3 linked regions of the Homo sapiens genome follow. The protein of the gene in region 1 interacts with the protein of each later gene in a biochemical or structural test. Each region holds a gene or a part of one and is shown on either strand. Other genes may lie near its edges.

Region 1 (6,131 bases):
TACAAAAATTAGCCAGGTGTGGAGGATTGTGCCTGTAGTCACAGCTACTCAGGAGGCTGAGGCAGGAGAATCGCTTGAGCCCAGGAGGCAGAGGTTGCAGTGAGCTAAGGGATTGCATCACTACACTCCAGCCTGGGCAACAGGAGTGAAACCCTGTCTCAAAAAAAAAAAAAAAAAAAGAAAGAAAAAGAAAGGTCTATTCAAGTCCTTTGCTCATTTTCTTTTCTTTTCTTTTTTTTTTTTTTTGAGACGGAGTCTCGCTCTGTCACCCAGGCTGGAGTGCAGTGGCACAATCTCGGCTCACTGCAAACTCCGCCTCCTGGGTTGACGCCATTCTCCTGCCTCAGCCTCCCGAGTAGCTGGGACTACAGGCGTCCACCACCAAGCCTGGCTAATTTTTTTTGTGTGTGTATTTTTAGTAGAGATAGGGTTTCACTGTGTTAGCCACGATGGTGTCAATCTCCTGACTTTGTGATCTGCCCACCTTGGCCTCCCAAAGTGCTGGGATTACAGGCGTGAGCCACCGCGCCTGGCCTTTTTTTTTGTATTTTTAGTAGAGACGGGGTTTCACCGTGTTAGCCAGGATGGTCTTGATCTCCTGACCTCATGATCCGCCTGCCTTGGCCTCCCAAAGTGTTGGGATTACAGGCGTGAGCCACCACACCCAGCCCTTTGCTCATATTCTAATCAGATTTTTTTGTTGATGTTGAGGTATAGGAGTTCTTTATATGTTCTGGATGTTAAATCCTTATTAGATATATGATTTGCATGTATTTTCTTTTTTCTTTTTTTTTTTTTTTTAAGACAGAATCTCACTCTGTCACCCAGGCTGGAGTGCAGTGGCACATTCATGGCTCACTGCAGCCTTGAGCTTCTGGGCTCAAGTGATCCTCCCACCTCAGCCTCCCAAGTAGCTGGGACTACAGATGTGCGTCATCAAGCCTGGCTAATTAAAAAAAATATATGTTTTTTGTAAAGACGAGATCTCTCTTTGTTGCCGGGCTGGTCTTGAACTTTTGAGCTGAGGCAGTCCTCCTGCCTGGGCCTCTGAATGTGTTGGGATTACAGGCATGAGCCACCGTACCCAGCATGTATGTATTTTCTCCTATCATGTGGGTTGCCTTTTCACTCTGTTAATAGTGTCATTTGATACATAGAAGTTTTAGATTTTGATGGCATCTTGTTTTATTTATTTATTTTTATTTTTTTGAGACAGGGTCTCACTCTGTTGCCCAGGCTGGAGTGCAGTGGTGCAGTCACAGCTCACTGCAGCCTTGACCTCCCTTGAGCAATCCTCCTGCCTCAGCCTCCCGAGTAGCTGGGACTATAGGTGCACACCACCATGCCTCGCTAATTTTTATACTTTTTGTAGAGTCAGGGTTTCACCATGCCCAGCCTGGTCTTCAACTCCTGGGCTCAAGTGATCTTCCTGCCTCCCAAAGTGCTGGGATTACTGGCGTGAGCCACCGTGCCTGGATATCGTATTTTAATTTGTAATTTTTTTGGTATGTACTCCCCCTGCTTTAATTTTAATTTTTTAAATTAAAGTACTATATACAGGCTGGGTGTGGTGGCTCATGCCTGTAATCCCAGCACTTTGGGAGGCTGAGGTGGGTGGATCACCTGAGATCAGGAGTTCAAGACCAGCCTGGCCAACATGGCGAAACCCCATCTCTATTAAAAATACAAAAATTATCTGGGCATGGTGGCACGTGCCTGTAATCCCAGTTGCTCAGGAGGCTGAGGCAGGAGAATTGCTTGAACCGGGGAGGCGGAGGTTGCAGTGAGCCGAGATTGTGCCACTGTACTCCAGCCTGCGCGACAGAGAACCCATCTCAAAAAAAAGAAAGTAATACATACATGCCAGGTGTGGTGGCACATGCCCAAAATCCCAGCACTTTGGGATGCTGAGGTGGGCAGATCACTTGAGCCCAGGAGTTTGAGACCAGGCTGGCCAGTATGGTGAAACCCTGTCTCTACTAAATATACAGAAACATTAGCTGAGCATGGTGCTGCATGCCTGTAGTCCCAGCTACTCAGGAGGCTGAGGCACGAGAATTGCTTGAACCTAGGAGGCTGAGGTTGCGGTGAGCTGAGATTGCACCACTACACTCCAGCCTGGGCAACAGAGCAAGACTCTGTCTCAGAAAAATAAAGCAATACATACGCATGGTTAAAAAATTAATGATATGGAAATATATAAAAGTAAACATCTTCTTTTTCCAAAGGACTAGTCCTCTCTGGAAGTAACCACTCTTAACAAGTTTTTCCATGTTCTTCCAGAAAACTTCGCACACTAGAGCAACACAGGTGTCCTTTTAGAAAATATTATCGGCCGGGCACGGTGGCTCACACCTGTAATCCCAGCACTTTGGGAGGCTGAGGTGGGTGGATCACCTGAGATCAGGAGTTCTGAGACCAGCCTGGCCAACATGGCGAAACCCTGTCTCTACTAAAAATACTAAAATTAGGCGGGTGTGGTGGCGGGCACCTGTAGTCCCAGCTACTCAGGAGGCTGGGGCATGAGAATTGCTAGAACCTGGGAAGCAGAGGTTGCAGTGAGCCAAGATTGTGCCACTGCACTCCAGCCTGGGTGACAGAGTGAGACTGTGTCTCAAAAAAAAAAAAAAAGAAAGAAAATATTATCAAATAGGTTCATACTTTGGTGGGGTTTTGGTTTGTTTTGACTAAAACCCTTCATTCTCTGTACTGTATTTGAACAATACCTATTGATGGACATTTCTGGTGTTTTCAGTTTTTGAATTTCTACACAGTCCTGGAATGAACATTTCATTTGTATGTCTCGCTAATTTTTATACTTTTTGTAGAGTGCTGGGATTACAGGCATTTGTATGTCTTGTAATTTGTATGTCATCTTGCAATTGTGTACTATGTACCTTGGATGTACCTTTTAAAGATCGTTGGTGGTGGGACACGTGTTTTTTGAGGAAGATGGTACTGAGGTCAGCACCCTGGCTGCCCTGAGAGTGCAGTGCCACGTTCCCCACCCTCTCGCCAACCACAGGATTATGCTGCAAATGTAAATCTTTACCAATTTGATAGGCAAAAAATGGGATCTCAGCATTTTAGCCTGCATCTCTGAGTACTAACGAGGCTGAACACGAAATGAGCTTATTTTCTTTTCAGAAGCCCCTGAATGTGACAGTGATCCGCAGGGGGGAAAAACACCAGCTTAGACTTGTTCCAACACGCTGGGCAGGAAAAGGACTGCTGGGGTAAAGTATCTGTTTCTGTTCATTCTCACTGGGGCATCATTTGAGTGTTTGTTAAACATGAAGCTGGAGGGGAAGGCTGGGGAGACATTGGGGAATAATGGGAATCCCCAGTTTGCATGGAAACTGCAGATAAATCCTCGTGGTAGGAACGAGACTACAGCTCTAGAAGCAGAGGGAGCCCCAGAGTCTCTCCTGGGAGTCTCTCCAGTTCATTCATGCACTAGGCATTTGCTTTAAAAGAATGAAAGAACATTGGTGAAAAGGTCAGAAGGGCTCAGCCTCTGACCTTCCTGAAGGGAGCCTCCAAACTTACGCCATTCCTTTTCTTCTTTCTTCCAGCTGCAACATTATTCCTCTGCAAAGATGATTGTCCCTGGGGAACAGTAACAGGAAAGCATCTTCCCTTGCCCTGGACTTGGGTCTAGGGATTTCCAACTTGTCTTCTCTCCCTGAAGCATAAGGATCTGGAAGAGGCTTGTAACCTGAACTTCTGTGTGGTGGCAGTACTGTGGCCCACCAGTGTAATCTCCCTGGATTAAGGCATTCTTAAAAACTTAGGCTTGGCCTCTTTCACAAATTAGGCCACGGCCCTAAATAGGAATTCCCTGGATTGTGGGCAAGTGGGCGGAAGTTATTCTGGCAGGTACTGGTGTGATTATTATTATTATTTTTAATAAAGAGTTTTACAGTGCTGATATGACCCTGTTGTCACCCCAGCTGAATTTCTTATGACCCTCCCAAACCAAAGCTCAGATGGGGTCAGAAGAGCTTCATAGAAAGTTGGGCAAAACAGGCTAGCAATTGCAAAGTCAGGCTTTGACCAACATATTTCTTTGCACTGAGGCCTTGCTGCTGTGGATACGGAAATGGTTAAGTACTGTGCTTCCTCAGCAGCTGGGCTGTCAGGGCCATAGTAGCTCCCTTTGGAGAACAGGGAAAGCCTGGAGGCTTCCCAGGTGGCCCAGCGTGGTGTCCTGTCAGCTTCCTCTTTAGGAACCCACCAGAGGGCAGCAAGCTCCTTTCACTTCGCTAGTAAGAACCCCTCCGTTTTTGTGTGTTTTTGTTTTTGTTTTCTGGAGACAAGGTCTTGCTTTGTCACCCAGGCTGGAGTGCAGTGTCGTGATCAAGGTTCACTGAAGCCTTGACGCTGTGGGCACTGCCTCAGCCGCCCAAGTATCTGGGACCACAGGCGTGCACCACCATGCATAGCTAATTTATTTTTTGTAGAGACAGGGTCTCCCTGTGTTGACCAGGTTGGTCTCGAACTCCTGGGCTCAAGCAGTCCTCCTGCCTTGGCCTCCTAAAGTGCTGGGATCACAGGCGTGAGCCACTGCGCCCAGCCCACTGCTAGTTTGACTTTTTATAATTGAACCTCCTGGCTATGCCCTGAGATCAGCGCTATTTTGTAAACCGCTGAGGTATGGATAGGAACGAGTAGATCAGACCTCTTGAAAATGCTTATTCTTCCTCCCTTTTATTTTTTGTCTCTTTTAAGATGGTAAAATGGTTCTCAGGGATTCCTGCCAATACTTTGAATTATTTTTTCCTCTCCATGGTATCAGTGTTCATTTCCCCAGTTCTTGCACACCGCTTTCTGTTTTGGCAGTTCTGCCAGGCAAGCCCTGTGTTCCTTGGGACTGGTTTTGCTGTGGTTGGATACAGATACCAGCTTGCCTTGATGGGATTGGTATTGCTGTGTGCTTCCAGCCACAGGTTCTCACACTCAATTCCAAAGCCTTCCTATTGGGCGAATTCCCTCAAACTCTATTTGACCTGACAGCCATACGTATTCCCCTCTGGTAGCCACAGACATGCTGTGTTTACCAATGTTTGCTGTTTAAATTGCATGTTCTAATTCCACGTATTTTCCAGTCTCTTTTATAAAGTCTCAGACTATAATAAACACAGCTTGCCCAGTTTATCCTTTCTTTTTTATTTTAAGATGTATGCATATTAATCAATTTACCATCACTGGGGCATGGCAGTGTGGGCGGGGAGAATTATTCACATTCTCCTAAAATGACAGCAGCAGAGAGCCTTCTGCCTCAGTGGCTCTGGCTGGTTTCCTGCAGGGGTCCCAGTGGAAACCCGTGTGGCCACCTGTTGCCGTCTTCCATGAGATGTTAGTGGAGAGCCACTTTGACGTGGAATGATCCTAATAGATATAGCCAGACCGGTTTTGCGGAAACGCTTTGTGCTGAGAACCGCAAGCTGGTGCACCCTGTGTCATATCTGCCCCCAGCCAGCTGGAATTGTCTGCAACACGCGGTGCCCGGTGAGGAGGCAGGCAGGACGGTTGTGTGCTGCATCCATGAGACCTGGAAATTCAGTTTGCTTTTGGAAAAGAGCATTGTATCCGAGTTCATACTTCTCCACCCCATCTTGCCAAGGTTGCGGAAAGTAAAAATTGGCAGTATTGGCCGCTGCAGCTTCTTAGGGGACGGGACCATGTGAAAAGGTGGGATCGTGCGAGCGGAGGAAGGACAGAAAAGCGAGGAAAGTCTATGCCGCCAGCGACCGGCAGGAGGCACGTCGGGCACGCTCGTCACCGTTTCCTGGCACGTGACCACCGCCCTGCCCTGTCGCTTTAGGGCCTGTCGCTTCCGGCGGTGGCGGTTGCCATGGGGACGGAGCTTGGGTGGCAACCAGAACTAGGGAGCTGGTGGAGAAGGTGGCGGCCGCTGGAAGGAGGCCCGGGAGGTGGCTGAGGGGTCCAGGCGGCGGGACGACTCTGGCCTTTTGAAGACCGGGGTGGGTGCTCTCTGTAAGTCCGGGGCGGAGGCCACGCGGCCCTGGCGAGGGGGCCCCCGACCTGGCGGGGTCTGGTGCCCCTTGGGGGGCGCTCACCCGACCTGGCCCTTGTGGGGCCTGGGGCGGCCCCAGGGAGACCTGAGT
Region 2 (7,000 bases), on another chromosome or scaffold:
TCTCAGAGCACCCTCCCCTCACCTCTCAATCAAAAGTGACCTTGTCCTAGTTGTTCCTGAGACTCGTCCACAGCAATGATCACAGCGAAGAGTTGTATTTGTTTCTGGTTTCTTCGCTTCATATCTGTCTCCTTGGTTGACTCTCAGCCCCACGAAGGCAGGGCCTATGCCTGCTTTACCCACTGCTGCATACTCATCGTGTAGCCCTGGCCCCACATCTTTTAAATGCTCAATAAATACTCATTCCTGAGTGGATGCATAAAGCATGCATCAGGAAAGGGCCCATACTGGGCACAGTGGCTCTTGCCTGTAATCCCAGTGCTTAGGAGGCTACGCAGGAGGATGGCTTGGGCTCAGGAGTTTGAGACCAGCCTGGGCAACATAGCAAGACCTCGTCTCTACAAACAATAATAATAGTTTAAAAATTAGCTGGGTGTGGTGATGCGTGCCTGTAGTCCCAGCCACTTGGGAGGCTGAGGTGGGAGGATCACTTGATGGGAGATGGAGGCTGTAGTGAGCCATGATGGCGCCACTGCACTGCAGCCTGGGTGACAGAGCAAGACCCTGTCTCAAAAAAAAAAAGAAAAGAAAAAAGAAAAAAACAAAAAGAGAAAAAGAGCTCAGCCTTGTAGAGGAGAGAGGCTGGAGGCTGCATATCAGTGAGGCAACAGGACAACAGTTGAATAGTTGAGAAGAGAAATGAAAAAGGCCTTCCTTTAGTCTTTAACAGCAGAGGCAGGAAAAGCGGATAGATTCAGGAGCTCCAGAAAGTAGAACCAACTGACTGATAGAACACAGCAAGAGACAGGGACAGCAGATCTACACTGGGGGCTACAACTCAGGTGGTTGAGAAGAACATAGTGCAATTAAATGAAGTAACATGGGGGAAGGATAGCATATTTTGGGCTGTATCTCAACAGCCAAAGCTTGGAATTTGAGATGCTTGAAGGACATCTAGGTGGACATGTCTGGGAGGCAGTTGAAAATACAGTTCTGGCTCTCAGAAGTGAAACAATACTATATGAACAATACTATTTTGGATGATATTTATGAGTTCTTAGCACATGTCCGGTCCCATGTTAAGCCTAGAGGCAGCATCGTACATTGGTTAAGAGCTCAATTACTCTGAACTGAGTCAGATTGTTGGAGTTCACTTGCAAGTTCTCCAACTTGCATGATCTGTAACCCTCAGCAAGGTGCTTAAGCTTACTGTGCCCCATCTGTGCATATCTGGGGTAGTAATGGTACCTACCACGTTGGGCTACTTCCTATCAGGATTACAGTGAATTTAGAATAGTGTGTAGCACTCAATGAGTTTTATCTGTTTTTTGTTTTGTTTTGTGTTTTGAGACAGAGCCTTGCTGTGTCGCCCAGGCTGGAGTGCAGTGGTGCGATCATAGTGCACTGCAGCCTCGACCTCCTGGGCTCCAGTGATCCTCCCACCTCAGCTTCCTGAGTAGCTGGGACTACAGGCATGCACCACCATGCAAGGCTATTTTTTTTATTTTTGTAGAGATGAGGTCTCACTATGTTGTCCAGGCTGATCTCAAACTCCTGGCCTCAAGCAATCCTCCCATCTTGGCCTCCCAAATCTGTCATATTTTTATGATTGTCGTTAATCATCATAACAAGGCTGAGTGGTAGATAGGATTAGCATCCTCATGTTTTGACACGACGAAACTGAGGCTTAGAAAATTTAAGGTTGGGCCCAGTGGCTCACGCCTGTAACACTAGCACTTTAAGAGGCCGAGGCGGGTGGATCATTTGAGGTCAGGAGTTCAAGACCAGCCTGGCCAACGTGGTGAAACCCTGTCTCTACTAAAAATACAGAAATTAGCCAGGCGTGGTGGCACGTGCCTGTAATCCCAGCTACTTGGGAGGCTGAGGCAGGAGAATCGCTTGAGCCTGGCAGATGGAGGTTGCCGTGAGCTGAGGTGGTGCCACTGCACTCCAGTCTGGGCGTCTGGGCGACAGAGTGAGACCCTGTCTCAAAAAAAAAAAAAAAAAAAAAAAAAAGAAAAGAAAAAGAAAATTTAAGTAATTTCCCTGAAGTCACCCAGCTGGTAAACGGTGGAGCTGGGATTTGAATCTGACTCATTCATCCTGCATTGTCAGGTCTAAGTCCTGACTGAGCCACTAGCCAAAGAGAATGAGAGTCCTTCACAAGTAGTGAATGAGACATCACTCAGAAAAAGCCTGTTTGAGGCATGGTGCTGGGGTTAAGAGTAAAAGGCTTCAAGGAAGAACGACAAGAAAAAGGGAGAAAGACACTTTGATGTGTAGCGGGAGAGCCAAGCACTGTTGGGAGAGGAAAAAAGTTTGGGGCGTGTTGTGTGGCTCAGATACTCAGTGGTGCCACCTACCTGTGGGAGGACTTAAATCAGTAACTTTGGGATTTTGATTCCTGGCGGTATCTGGGTTTCTTGCTAAAAGTTGGTTCCATCTGATGCCTTCCCGAGCTATCCTGACCTTGGCTTTAATAATTCATAAATGCCACTAACGATCTACAAGTGAAAAGCATTTTCACATCAAGGTCTAATTGGACCCTCGTGGCCACCCGGAGACACAGGAACGACTAAATACATTCTGCAGATGAGGAAACAAAGGCTCATAGAGGGGAAGGGGTTTACGTTGCCTAAGAACTCTGACACTAGTATAGACAGGCCCGCACTGACTCTGAGATACATCACGTACCAGCTGTGGTCCTTTGGTAAGTTACTTAACCTCCCAAGCCTCAGTTTCCCTTTTCTGTGAAGTGGAGATGATCATGCCTGCCCTTAGATTTTCAGGAGCAAATTGGATTGTGGATACAAAGCTTAGGACATCCGGTATACAGTAAGCAGTCAATAATTGGGAGCCAGCCGTAGAAGTGGTGATAGTAGCTGAGACTCAAGTCAAATCCAGACCACCAATTCCAAACTGTGGGTTCTTGTTGCTGCTGAGAATGGCATGGTCATCTGTCATCAAGGAAACGGCACGAAGGAAAATAGAGCTAGTAATAACTATGGTTAATGAGGACGGTAAATGCTAATCACTGAAGGACTTTCGTCTCCAGCTAAGGAGATGAGTGTGATTCATGGGGAGGATTTAAGGCTATTGTTAAGGTTCCAACAATGAGAAGGGCCCTTGCAGCCATTAATATGGGTTAGAACCCAGACCCTGCCCTTTCCTCCCTGGGTGACCAATCCAGGTCTGAGTGTTAGTTTCTGCATCTATAAAATGGGGGTTAAAACATGTATTACTTGATTTATGAAAGCCAAGTGACATAAAGTGTGTTGAACATCGAGCCTGGAGTACAGTAAGTGTTCAACAAGTGTTTCATTTTTTTCTTTCCATCACACTTTCCTAAGGACAGTACATGACAGTAGAGTTATGCATCAGGAATACAGTCTGAGAAGTGCATTGTTAGGCAATGTCGTCCTTGTGTGAGCATCATAGAGTGTACTCACACGAACCTAGATGGTAGTGCCTGCTACACACCTGGGCTATATGATACAGCCTGTGCTTCCAGGCTACAAACCTGTACATACACACATGTAGAAACACACACACATATCACACACACATATGTAGAAACATATGTGTGTGTGTGGTATATGTGTGTGTATGTGTGTATTTAGAGATAGGGTCTCACTCTGTTACTGAGGCTATAGTACAGTGGCACAATCATAGCTCACTGCAGCCTTGACCTCCTGGGCTCAAGTGATCCTCTTGCCTCAGCCTCCTGAATAGCTGGGACCACAGGCATACACCACCATGCCTGGCTAATTTAAATGAAAATTTTGTAGAGGTGGGGTCTCACTATGTTGTCCAGGCTGGTCTTGAACTTCTGGCTTTAAGCGATCCTTTGTCTTGGTCTCCCAAAATGCTGGGATTACAGGTGTGAGCTACCATGCCTGGTCTATTTTTTAAATTACTGTGGATGGAAAGAAAAATGGCATGTATGACGTCAAATCTAGGAGGTAATGGGAAGAGGAAGGGGACGTGTGGGATGAAAATTTTTGTCTTCTTTTCCACAGAGAAGAGGGCAGCCAAGATGACCCGATGGTCCAGTTACCTGTTGGGATGGACAACCTTCCTTCTCTATTCCTATGAGTCAAGTGGAGGTAAGGACACTCAAAGCAACAGGGAGGATTTAGAAGCTGGAGAAGAATGAATGGGGCAAAGCAAAGATTCCTGGAACTAAGTAGGCAGGAGATGGCTTAGCAAAAATCTCAGAAGAAGCTGGGCGCGGTGGCTGACACCTGTAATCCCAGCACTTTGCAGGGCTGAGGCAGGCAGATCACTTGAGGTCAGGAGTTCCAGAGCAGCCTGCCCAACATGGTGAAACCCCATCTCTACTAAAAATACAAAAATTAGCCAGGCATGGTGGTGAGCGCCTGTAATCCCAGCTACTTGGGAGGCTGAGGCAGGAGAATCGCTTGAACCCAGGAGGTGGAGGTTGCAGTGAGCCGAGATCGTACCACTGAACTCCAGACTGGGAGACAAGAGCAAAACTCCCTCTCAAAAAAAAAAAAAAAAAATCTCAGAAGACCTGGGGTTTGGACCCTGGATCTGCCACTTCTTTTCTTGGTAACTTTGGTCAAGCAACATAAGCTCTCTGAAGTCAATTTCCAGACTGTAAAAGAGAAGTAACGGCATTTATCTCACGGGGTTATTTTGAAGATCAAATAAAATAATGGGCACCAGCATCTTTCATAATGCTCAGCACATGGTGGGGGTAAAAGGCAGGCTATATAATTCCAGTGAACAGAACCTTCAGACCCCAACCTGGACAACCTAATTATATCTTAATATATCTCAGAATCTAAATTAACCACTAAAAGACTGTAAGGTAAGCATGGAAACAGAACAAGAGGAAACCTTGCTTACATGTCATTCACTCAAGCCTTGGTGAGTCATTCTTCACAATTAGAATCCTTTTCTGCCTGATAAATCGTTCTCCTCTGGATAAGGCTCAGGAACCATTTGCATATTGATGCACCTTGATCCCACATTCTTTATTCCAGAGATTCCTAACCTGGGGTCATTGAGTGAGGATTAGAGTCCATGAAAACTGGAATTTACGTTTTAAAAAAAGTGTGTATTTATGAGGGTAGTGAGAATAGCTATTGTAACAAACAAAATCCAAACTATCAGCTGCTTGACACAATAACATTTTTTTTTTCTTGGTTCTGCAAAATCCCAGAAGGGTGCATCTGGTCAGGAAACAATGCTCCACATGGTCATTCAGGGATCCAAGCTTCTTACATCCTGGAGCCCCAACATCCCCTACGGTTTCAGAGTCTGCTGAGGTTTCTTTGCTTTTAGCTTGTAGACAAGTATCAAGAGAGTCTGGAGGACCTTGGAGGAGAGGGTTTTTTGTTTGTTTGTTTTCTTTTGGCCAGGACAGGAAGTGACATTCATCCCTTTCTCCTGCTTCCACTGGCCAAAACTGATATGGCTCTTAACTGCAAGCAAGTCTGGGAGATGCAGTGTAGCAGTGCATTTGGGAGGAAAGTGAAACTGATTTCGGTGAACACACAGCCATCTCAACCATAAGGGCATATGAATATTCTCCTAGAGAGAAGTTCTGGGTTCTCAAAGAACTGACAAATTCCTGAAAGTTTAGGAACTCACAGTTTATTCAGACAAGGAACAATGTACTTGATGGGGTATCCACTTTTCTAGTTATAATCTCATTTTTGTCATGCCTCCCTGAGACCACACCCACATACTTGTGGTGAAACTCAGTATTCCAAGTTCCCTTTGCGTGTATTTACAGATAAATTATTCAGTATACACTTACTGAGTGATCTTTAAGTTCCAGACATTGTGTTATGGACCAGAAGTGCAGAAATAAACAAAACCTAAACCCTCCACTCAGAGAGTTCACAGTAATCGGGAGTTATAGACACATAAATGAATTATTTTTAAAAAATTGGCAACTGCATTCATTTATAGAGATTGACTCTGAGTATTATAAGTGTGAGGAAGAGTATTGACCCAGACTGAGCCAAGTCTTCATGGATGAATAGCAGGGACTAAAGCTGGGAAGAGAGGAAAGGCATTCAGGACAGGGTGAAGGGCAGGACCAAAATCTCAAAGACGAGAAAGAACATGGAATAAGGTCAAGGGAATGTTAATCAGGGAGTGAGAACAGGCAGGTCAGCAGGGTCTGGATTATAGAGGATTGTAACTCAGTTAAGAAGATTAGGCCATCTGCTGGATTACTTTGCAGATGGCTAATAGTATTCATTATGTGCTGATTCTTACTAACGACTCCCAAAGATAACCTTAATTCCACCTACAGGGGCATCTGCCCTCTCCCTCAACACAGTATCCTATATACTCAGTGGTGTTCGTGACTGAGGCAAAGCATTGATAATGACAATAATGACAGTGAAGATGACAATGATAATGATGAGGATGATGATGATATGACGATGATGACAATGATGACGGTAATGATGACAACAATAATAGCGACAATGACAATGATGATGGTGACAGTGATGATGATGACGATGATGATAATGATTATGACAATGATGTGATGAGGAGGAAAATAATGATTACAATAATGATGACAATGATGATGAGAATGACAATAATGGGGTTGATGATGATGATGACAATGATTGATAATGATGATGACAATGACGATGATGATCACCATGATAATGACAATAATGAGGTTGATAATGATGGTGACAATGACTGATGATGATGACAATTATGACGATGATGATGATGATGGTGACAATGATGATGACGATGATAATGATGATGTCAATAATGATGTGATGAGGAGGAGAATAATGATCACGATGACAGTGATGATGATGACAATGACAATAATGAGGTTGATGATAATGACAATGACTGATAATGATGATGACAATGATGATGACAATGACTGATAATGATGACAATGATGATGATGACAATGATGATCATCATCACATGATAATGACAATAATGAGGTGGATTATGATGACAATGATGATGACAACGATGA
Region 3 (6,879 bases), on another chromosome or scaffold:
CCACCATGACCGGCCAATTTTTGTATTTTAGTAGAGGCAGGGTTTCACCATGTTGGCCAGGCTAGTCTCGAGCTCCTGACCTCAGGTGATCCACCCGCCTTGGCCTCCCAAAATGCTGGGATTACAGGTGTCAGCCATAGCGCCCGGCCAAGCCAATATTAATTTACTTTTTTGACTAGCCACATTAAAAGCTTGAAAAATAAAACAGGTTAATCTCACATTGCTTGTGTTCTGTTTTGGTGGAATTCAGAGAAGCCAGTGTTAGTGAACTGATTTTCATCTTACAGTTCCACAAGAAATTCCAACATGATTTGGTAATAAGTACTAATACGTTTCGTATGTTTATATTTGTTTAAATGCACCCTCAATACTTACATTTCTTTTCTTTTTTTATTTTTTGAGACAGAGTTTCGCTCTTGTTGCCCAGGCTGGAGTACAATGGAGTGATCTCGGCTGCCTGCAACCTCCGCCTTCTGGGTTCAACGATTCTCCTGCCTCAGCCTCCCGAGTAGCTGGGATTACAGGCGCACACCACCAAGCCTGGCTAATTTTATATTTTTAGTAGGGACAGGGTTTCACCATGTTGGCCAGGCTGGTCTCGAACTCCCGCCCTCAGGTGATCCGCCCGCCTTGGCCTCCCAGTGTTGGGATTACAGGCGTGAGCCATCACGCCCGGCCGATGCTTATATTTCATATTGAAGGGACACACCTCAACACATTTACTTTTGGAAACTGTTAAGCAGATAGAGGGAACGCTGAAAAAATTTCTACCAGAGATATACCAAGAGGTGGGTATTTTTTAAAAAGCAGCTTAAACTAGGTTAGTTAAACATCGGCTTCTAAAAGATCAAAGCTGGATTTCCTCATGGAACAGAACACTCCCAGTTCTCTGAGGTCAGTGGGCAGAGGCTGTAGTTATAGCTGGTTGGCTTCATCTGATGCATTTTTCTTTTCCTTAAACTCAGGATTTGTCCTGCTCCGTAATTGTAATCTCTTTGCCTGGCCTTTGCTTTCGTCTGTGAAGCTGCCACTAGGTAGGTTTTAAGTAGGGAGTAGTATCGTGTAGGTCTAAATAAAAACTAAATAGTTTCATTCTCTTTTTTCCCCATATAGAACAGTTCTGTCAATTGGAGCAGGCAAAAATAACAATGAACATTTTTGAGACTTTTCTCAAAAATTCATCTTGAGAATGTATTTTCAGAAAATCATGAAGTTTGAATTATTATCCGAATAAAAAAATGATGGCCTCTTCAGAGCGGGGTGTTTTTTCTAGTTAAGAGATTACAATGATATTCCCACATCAGGCTTTTGGTGGCTAGCTTGACATCTGTCTTTGGAAGTAAAATGATTGGCAGCATTCTCAGTTTATGTAAAAGTTTGCATAGAGACATAGCAGAAAGAACTTGGGTTTTTGGAGTTAGATTTGAGAATACTAGATAGTATACTTATTAGTTTTGTGATAGTAAATTCATCTGACTCTATTTTTATAAAATGGTGATTGCGATGAACTAAAATCACAAATGTGAAATAGCAAATTCTCAACAAAAAGGCCCTCCTGTTTTTTGATTTTAGGTGATTTCCTTTTAACACCTGATTAAAGACAAAGGTTGACTTGATTTAGGATGAGAAGGATTTATTATATTTATTAACAAAGAGGTAAAGCTTTTTTCTTTCTTTCTTTTCTTTCTTTTTTTTTTTTTTTTTGAGGCAGAGTCTCACTCTGTTGCCCAGTCCAGAGTGCAGTGGCGCTATCTCGGCTCACTGCAACCTCTGCTTCCCGGGTTCTAAGTGATTCTTCTGCCTCAGCCTCCCGAGTAGCTGGGATTACAGGCGCTCGCCACCACATTTGGCTAATTTTGTATTTTTAGTGGAGACTGGGTTTCACCATATTGGGGCCAGGCTGGTCTGGAACTCCTGACCTCAGGTGATCCACCAGCCTCGGCCTCCCAAAGTACTGAGATTACGGGCATGAGGCACCGCACCAGCCAGAAGTAAAGCTTCTTAAGGTAATCCCATGAAATGGGAAAAGGAAACCTTGAAGAGAAGCGTGGGTGGCTATCACCAATATGGTATTTGGGGCAGTTCTCATAATTGTTTATCAATGCTGCAGAATAGCAGTATTCATCTTTCTCTTTTTTTTTTTTGAGACGGAGTCTCCCTCTGTCGCCCAGGCTGGAGTGCAGTGGCGCAAACTCGGCTCACTGCAAGCTCTGCCTTCCCGGTTCACGCCATTCTCCTGCTTCAGCCTCCGGAGTAGCTGGAACTACAGGCACGTGCCACCACGGCCGGCTAATTTTTTTTGTATTTTTAGTAGAGACGGGGTTTCACCGTGTTAGGCAGGATGGTCTCGAACTCCTGACCTTGTGATCCGCCCGCCTCGGCTTCCCAAAGTGCTGGGATTACAGGCGTGAGCCACCGTGCCCGGCCTTCATCTTTCTCTTTCACTATCCTTTAAATGACTGACCTATGTGTAGTGTATAAAAAATATATATTTTTAAATACAGGAAGCAGCAACACTCAGTATGAGAGGATAATTTGCGTGCTAAGAGTAAATGGGGAAGCAAACAGTAAATAGAGGCAAATGGGCAAAGGTTGAGTCATAGGGAACCTGGACTTGCCTCAAGTATTTGTGGTTGGTAGTAGTTCATTACGTGGGCTTGGGCACCAGGTGGGGCCCCCTCAAGTCAAGCAAACGTCAAGACCAGTTTCGCACCCTTGTTCCTCTAGCTCCGGACCAGCCAGAGCCACCTACTCGGATCATGTTGGCAGAACCCAGTACTGTTTCGAGGCCAGATGCACCATTTCAGCAATTCAGGAGGAAATAAGCAGTGTGGATAAACTGATACCCATTTTTGAAAGTCGGCCTGGGTTCGCATTCAGAAGAAATGTCGACGCTAGCCATTTTTTTTTTAAAATGGGTGATTTGATAACTCAGGGAAGTCTTGCCACTGTAATTTTTAAAAGTTTGCTTGCTAGAACCAGGTACTTTCTAAGAAGTGTATGGAAAAAGCCTTGATTCTTCTTCGCCCTGGGTGGTTTTTACGTCGAACACCTAGAAGTGCTTCTGGAAATCCCCCCGCAGGACTTTCGATGTCTTTTAGGGCATTCTTAAGACTAGACCCATTCCTAAGCGACTCCCACCTCCCAAACCAGCCATATGGTTTAGTTTCTCCAGTTTCCAATTTTCTAAATCTTCAACGTCTCCCCTCGAATTAGTCCAATCAAACTTTCTCTTCTTAGACCTCTTCCTTAGGTTCGCACCAGGAAACGCCCAGGAGAATCACGTGGCCGGGCTTGTCCTTAATGGCGCTCCGTAACCCTCCCACTATTCCACCACACTTCCTCGCCTCCCGTGAGCTCCGCCCCGCCCCATTCGCGCTTCCCACCCCCATCCCCCGCGAAGCGCCTGCGCCTGCGCAGCTCCAATTCAGGCGCTTTCCCTTTCCTGGCGACCAATCCACTTCCTGCCTCGGGTCCTCGGAACACTCCACCCCTCCGCTGGGGCCCTGGTTTGAGGTGCTGGTAGTGGCTACCTTACGTATTGCCAGTCTGAAAAATTCGCTCTTCTCATCGACTGGGGAATTTGAAAGAGCTGTTAAGTGAATGGCACTCATATGAGCCTTTGCCCCGGACCCGCCACCCCAGAGTCAAGCTGAGGGCATCGGCATGCCGCAGGGAAGACGATCAGGACTGTTTTTAATCGGGCAGTCGCGCGGATGGCCTTTTCCCTCTCGCCTCCTTCCGCCCCGCCCCCACTCTCAGCCCGGCCGCGCTGGTGAGTGGCGGGCGGGAGGGCTGGCGGGCGGAGGGAGGAGGGGGAGCTGAGGGAAGGCGGGCCCTCGGCTGCGAGATAGGTGGGGGGAGGGGAGGGGAGAGCCCGAGCGCTGGAGTTGGTGCTGGGAAACCCGGGGCTAATGTTGACAACAGGCTCGAGGTGAGTCCCGGGGATCCTCCTTCCCCTCCGCTCCAACGATCGGGAGGAAATGGGGCTGGGGGGCACCGGCCTAGACTCCTACTCCCTGGGGGACCCCAGAGGCGACTCCACACTCCAGCTCTCCGGGGTCGGCGAGCAGTGGAGGGACCGCGGGTCCGGCGTCGTTCTCCTCAGACCCCCTGTCTCCGAGGCTCCCATCAACGCGGGAGCCCCCGGGCCGGGCCATGCTTGGGGGGCGGTGGAGGAGGTGCCTGCCCCACATGCCTGGGCCGGGCCTCGAGACTGGAGGCGGGGAGCCCGCGGTGGAGGGGCGAAAGTGTTCGGGGGCGTGGAGGAGAGCGAGGGGAGGTCGGGGGAAGCTCCTCGAGAGCCGGGAGGGAAGCGAGGGCGAGAAAGTGGGGAGGGCGCGTGTGTGGGAGGCTGCGGAGTGGGGAGACCGGCCGGGAAGGCTTCTGTGGCGAGGGAGTGTGGGGCGAGAAGTTGGGGTTGGGGCAGCGATGGTCCGCGAAGGTGACCGTGGATACCTGTGGGAAGGGGAGTTGTGTCGGGGAAGTGTGGTGGGTTTAGAGGTTCCTACACCACCAGAGCAGGGGTTTGTAGGAGAGGTATGTGTAGGGGAAGGGGCTTGGGGTGTATCTGGGGATGGTGGGCATGGGCTGTTTGGTTGACTTCCTTTTAATCACATAGGCTGGTTGATTCTTCACTTTACCTTCACCTCTTCAAGGCGCCAAGCACTCTCTTCTTGCTAGGACTGTTGGACTAAGGAAGTGATCACAGGATATTTGGTCCCCAGGTTGGCAGAGCAGAGCCAGCTGGGTCCACGCTGGGGTGATCGGACCTTCAGCTCTCTTGCTCATCTTAGAGGACTTACACGACACGAAACGATGCATCAGATCAAAGTGAAACCCTCGCTGACGCTTTATCTCATTTCCATAGTTCTTAGGTGTTCCTTAACATCGTCAGTCTCCTCATTTGTGAGCTGGTACAATTTCTAACAGTTCTTAATACGTCCTTTATACTAAGGATGTTCTTTAAAAAATAAAGTCAGAAACTGGGAGATAGTGTTCCTGTGCTGTTCTGTCCTGACAGCATTTTGAATAAGAGAATTGAAAGGTAAAACCGCATTCTCTCATACTGGAGTGTTTTCGGAGCACTCTGATTGGGATTTCATACATAATCCATATGGTACTTTGCAAGGGAATGTCTTTAAAAGGGAAACACCCCCTTTTGTGCCCTCTTCCCCCCAATACACTCCATTGGTACTTCTAGTAAATTAGTTTTACTTTCTTTTGGAAGTTCAGAATGTATTTAGAATACCAAATAAAATATACAGTTCAAGTGACAGGACACTATTTTGGGAGCTAGGAAGGTGGTTTTAAAGCATGGTTTCCTTTTAAGGGTAGTCTGAATATAATTGTATTCAGCAAACTAATTTGTAACAGCTAATCGGATTCCAGTGAAAAGATCACGACTTTTTCTCCTCACTATCTTGAGAAAGGACCTATTTAAAATTGTATTTGGACTTGAAAAACTTTTGGAAACACTTTAGATGAAAAGTTTGGCTGTTAAAGCTTGAAGTTATTGAAATAAGAATTTTAGCATTTTATTAAATATCACTTAGTGCTCAGTTTTTTAAGTCGACATAAAACAAACGTGTATTGAGGTGAATCACGGTGTTTGTATATTTTATTCGTTTTAGTGTAGGTAGTGAAAAAGCACTGGGTAGTGAGTGTTGGTCCAGCCACGGAAACTAGCTGTATATATAATCTTGGGTAGGTGACTCTGCTGCTATCCTTGGAATGTAAAAATTGAGGATAGAAGTAGATAAAATCTAATAGTCTTTATCTGACTTTACAAATCTTTCATTGTATGCTGAACTTCTCAGTGTTCTTTGTGACAGAACATTTATTAATGCCTCCCTCATGCTAGTTACTATGCTAGAATTTTAAGAACTCTACAAGATAGATAGCAGTATATCCATCTTATTGATAAATAAGTGGACTCAGAGAAGTTGTTGCCTGATTTCTGTAGCTATCAGGCTGCAGAGTTGGGATGCAGATTTAAAATCAGTCCGACTTCCAAGCCCATGTATGTTGTTTTCACAAGTTGCATTGCTGCCTCTTCATGAACTTCTAGATTTTTGTCTTTTTTTTTTGTTTACGGAAATTTAGTCGCAAGTATACTTTGGGCGTATGCTTGTAATGTAAGGATGAAGTGGTTGAAAGGAGATACCAGTATCAGGACTTAAGGGTTTTACGGAGAATCTGTTTTATTATGTTCTAGGGTACAGTCTAATCCTTTTTTTTGTTTTGTTTTTTGTTTTTTGTTTTTCTTGAGACGGAGTCTGGCTTTGTCGCCAGGCTGGAGTGCAGTGGTGCCATCTTGGCTCACTGCAACCTCCGCCTCCCGGGTTCAAGTGATTCTCCTGCCTCAGCCTCCTGAGTAGCTGGGACTACAGGCGTGTGCTGCCACGCCCAGCTAATTTTGGTGTTTTTAGTAGAGATGGGGTTTCACCATGTTGTTGGCCAGGATGGTTTCGAACTCTTGACCTCGTGATCTACCTGCCTCGGCCTCCCAAAGTGCTGGGATTACAGGCATGAGCCACCATGCCCAGCCCCGAGTCTAATTCTTGCATGCCTACTGCAGCTTTATTTCTTATACTAAGTACTTAAAATTTAATGAAGACATGAATCTTATTAAAGAGTCATGAAAGTTTGGGACTTTGTTGAACTAATAAATGATGATCTTTGTGAATTTGTCAGATACTACATGAATTTCTTAATCTTTTCTTTGAAAAATTTAAGATGTTATTTTATCTTCAGAATGAGACATGCTGCCAGCCACAGTGGCTCATGCCTGTAAATCCCAGAACTTTGGGAGGCCAAGGCAGGCAGATCACCTGAGGTCGGGAGTTTGAGACCAGCCTGACCAACATGGAGAAACCC

The links.
Region 2: the proteins of PSMD9 (region 1) and ELSPBP1 form a complex in vitro, tested with the Homo sapiens proteins (one study listed by BioGRID).
Region 3: the proteins of PSMD9 (region 1) and UPF2 form a complex in vitro, tested with the Homo sapiens proteins (one study listed by IntAct).

The regions. Positions count from the first base shown.
Region 1 is NC_000012.12:121,912,709-121,918,839, forward strand, and holds the end of PSMD9 (26S proteasome non-ATPase regulatory subunit 9), read left to right. Parts: intron 1-3,147; coding exon 3,148-3,236; intron 3,237-3,575; coding exon 3,576-3,603; 3' UTR 3,604-5,589; downstream 5,590-6,131. UniProt on the Homo sapiens protein: Acts as a chaperone during the assembly of the 26S proteasome, specifically of the base subcomplex of the PA700/19S regulatory complex (RC).
Region 2 is NC_000019.10:48,004,632-48,011,631, forward strand, and holds part of ELSPBP1 (epididymal sperm-binding protein 1 precursor), read left to right. Parts: intron 1-2,450; exon of another isoform or gene 2,451-2,592; coding exon of another isoform or gene 2,593-2,710; intron 2,711-4,019; coding exon of another isoform or gene 4,020-4,036; coding exon 4,037-4,106; intron 4,107-7,000.
Region 3 is NC_000010.11:12,039,810-12,046,688, reverse strand, and holds the start of UPF2 (regulator of nonsense transcripts 2), read left to right. Parts: upstream 1-3,879; 5' UTR 3,880-3,934; intron 3,935-6,879. UniProt on the Homo sapiens protein: Involved in nonsense-mediated decay (NMD) of mRNAs containing premature stop codons by associating with the nuclear exon junction complex (EJC).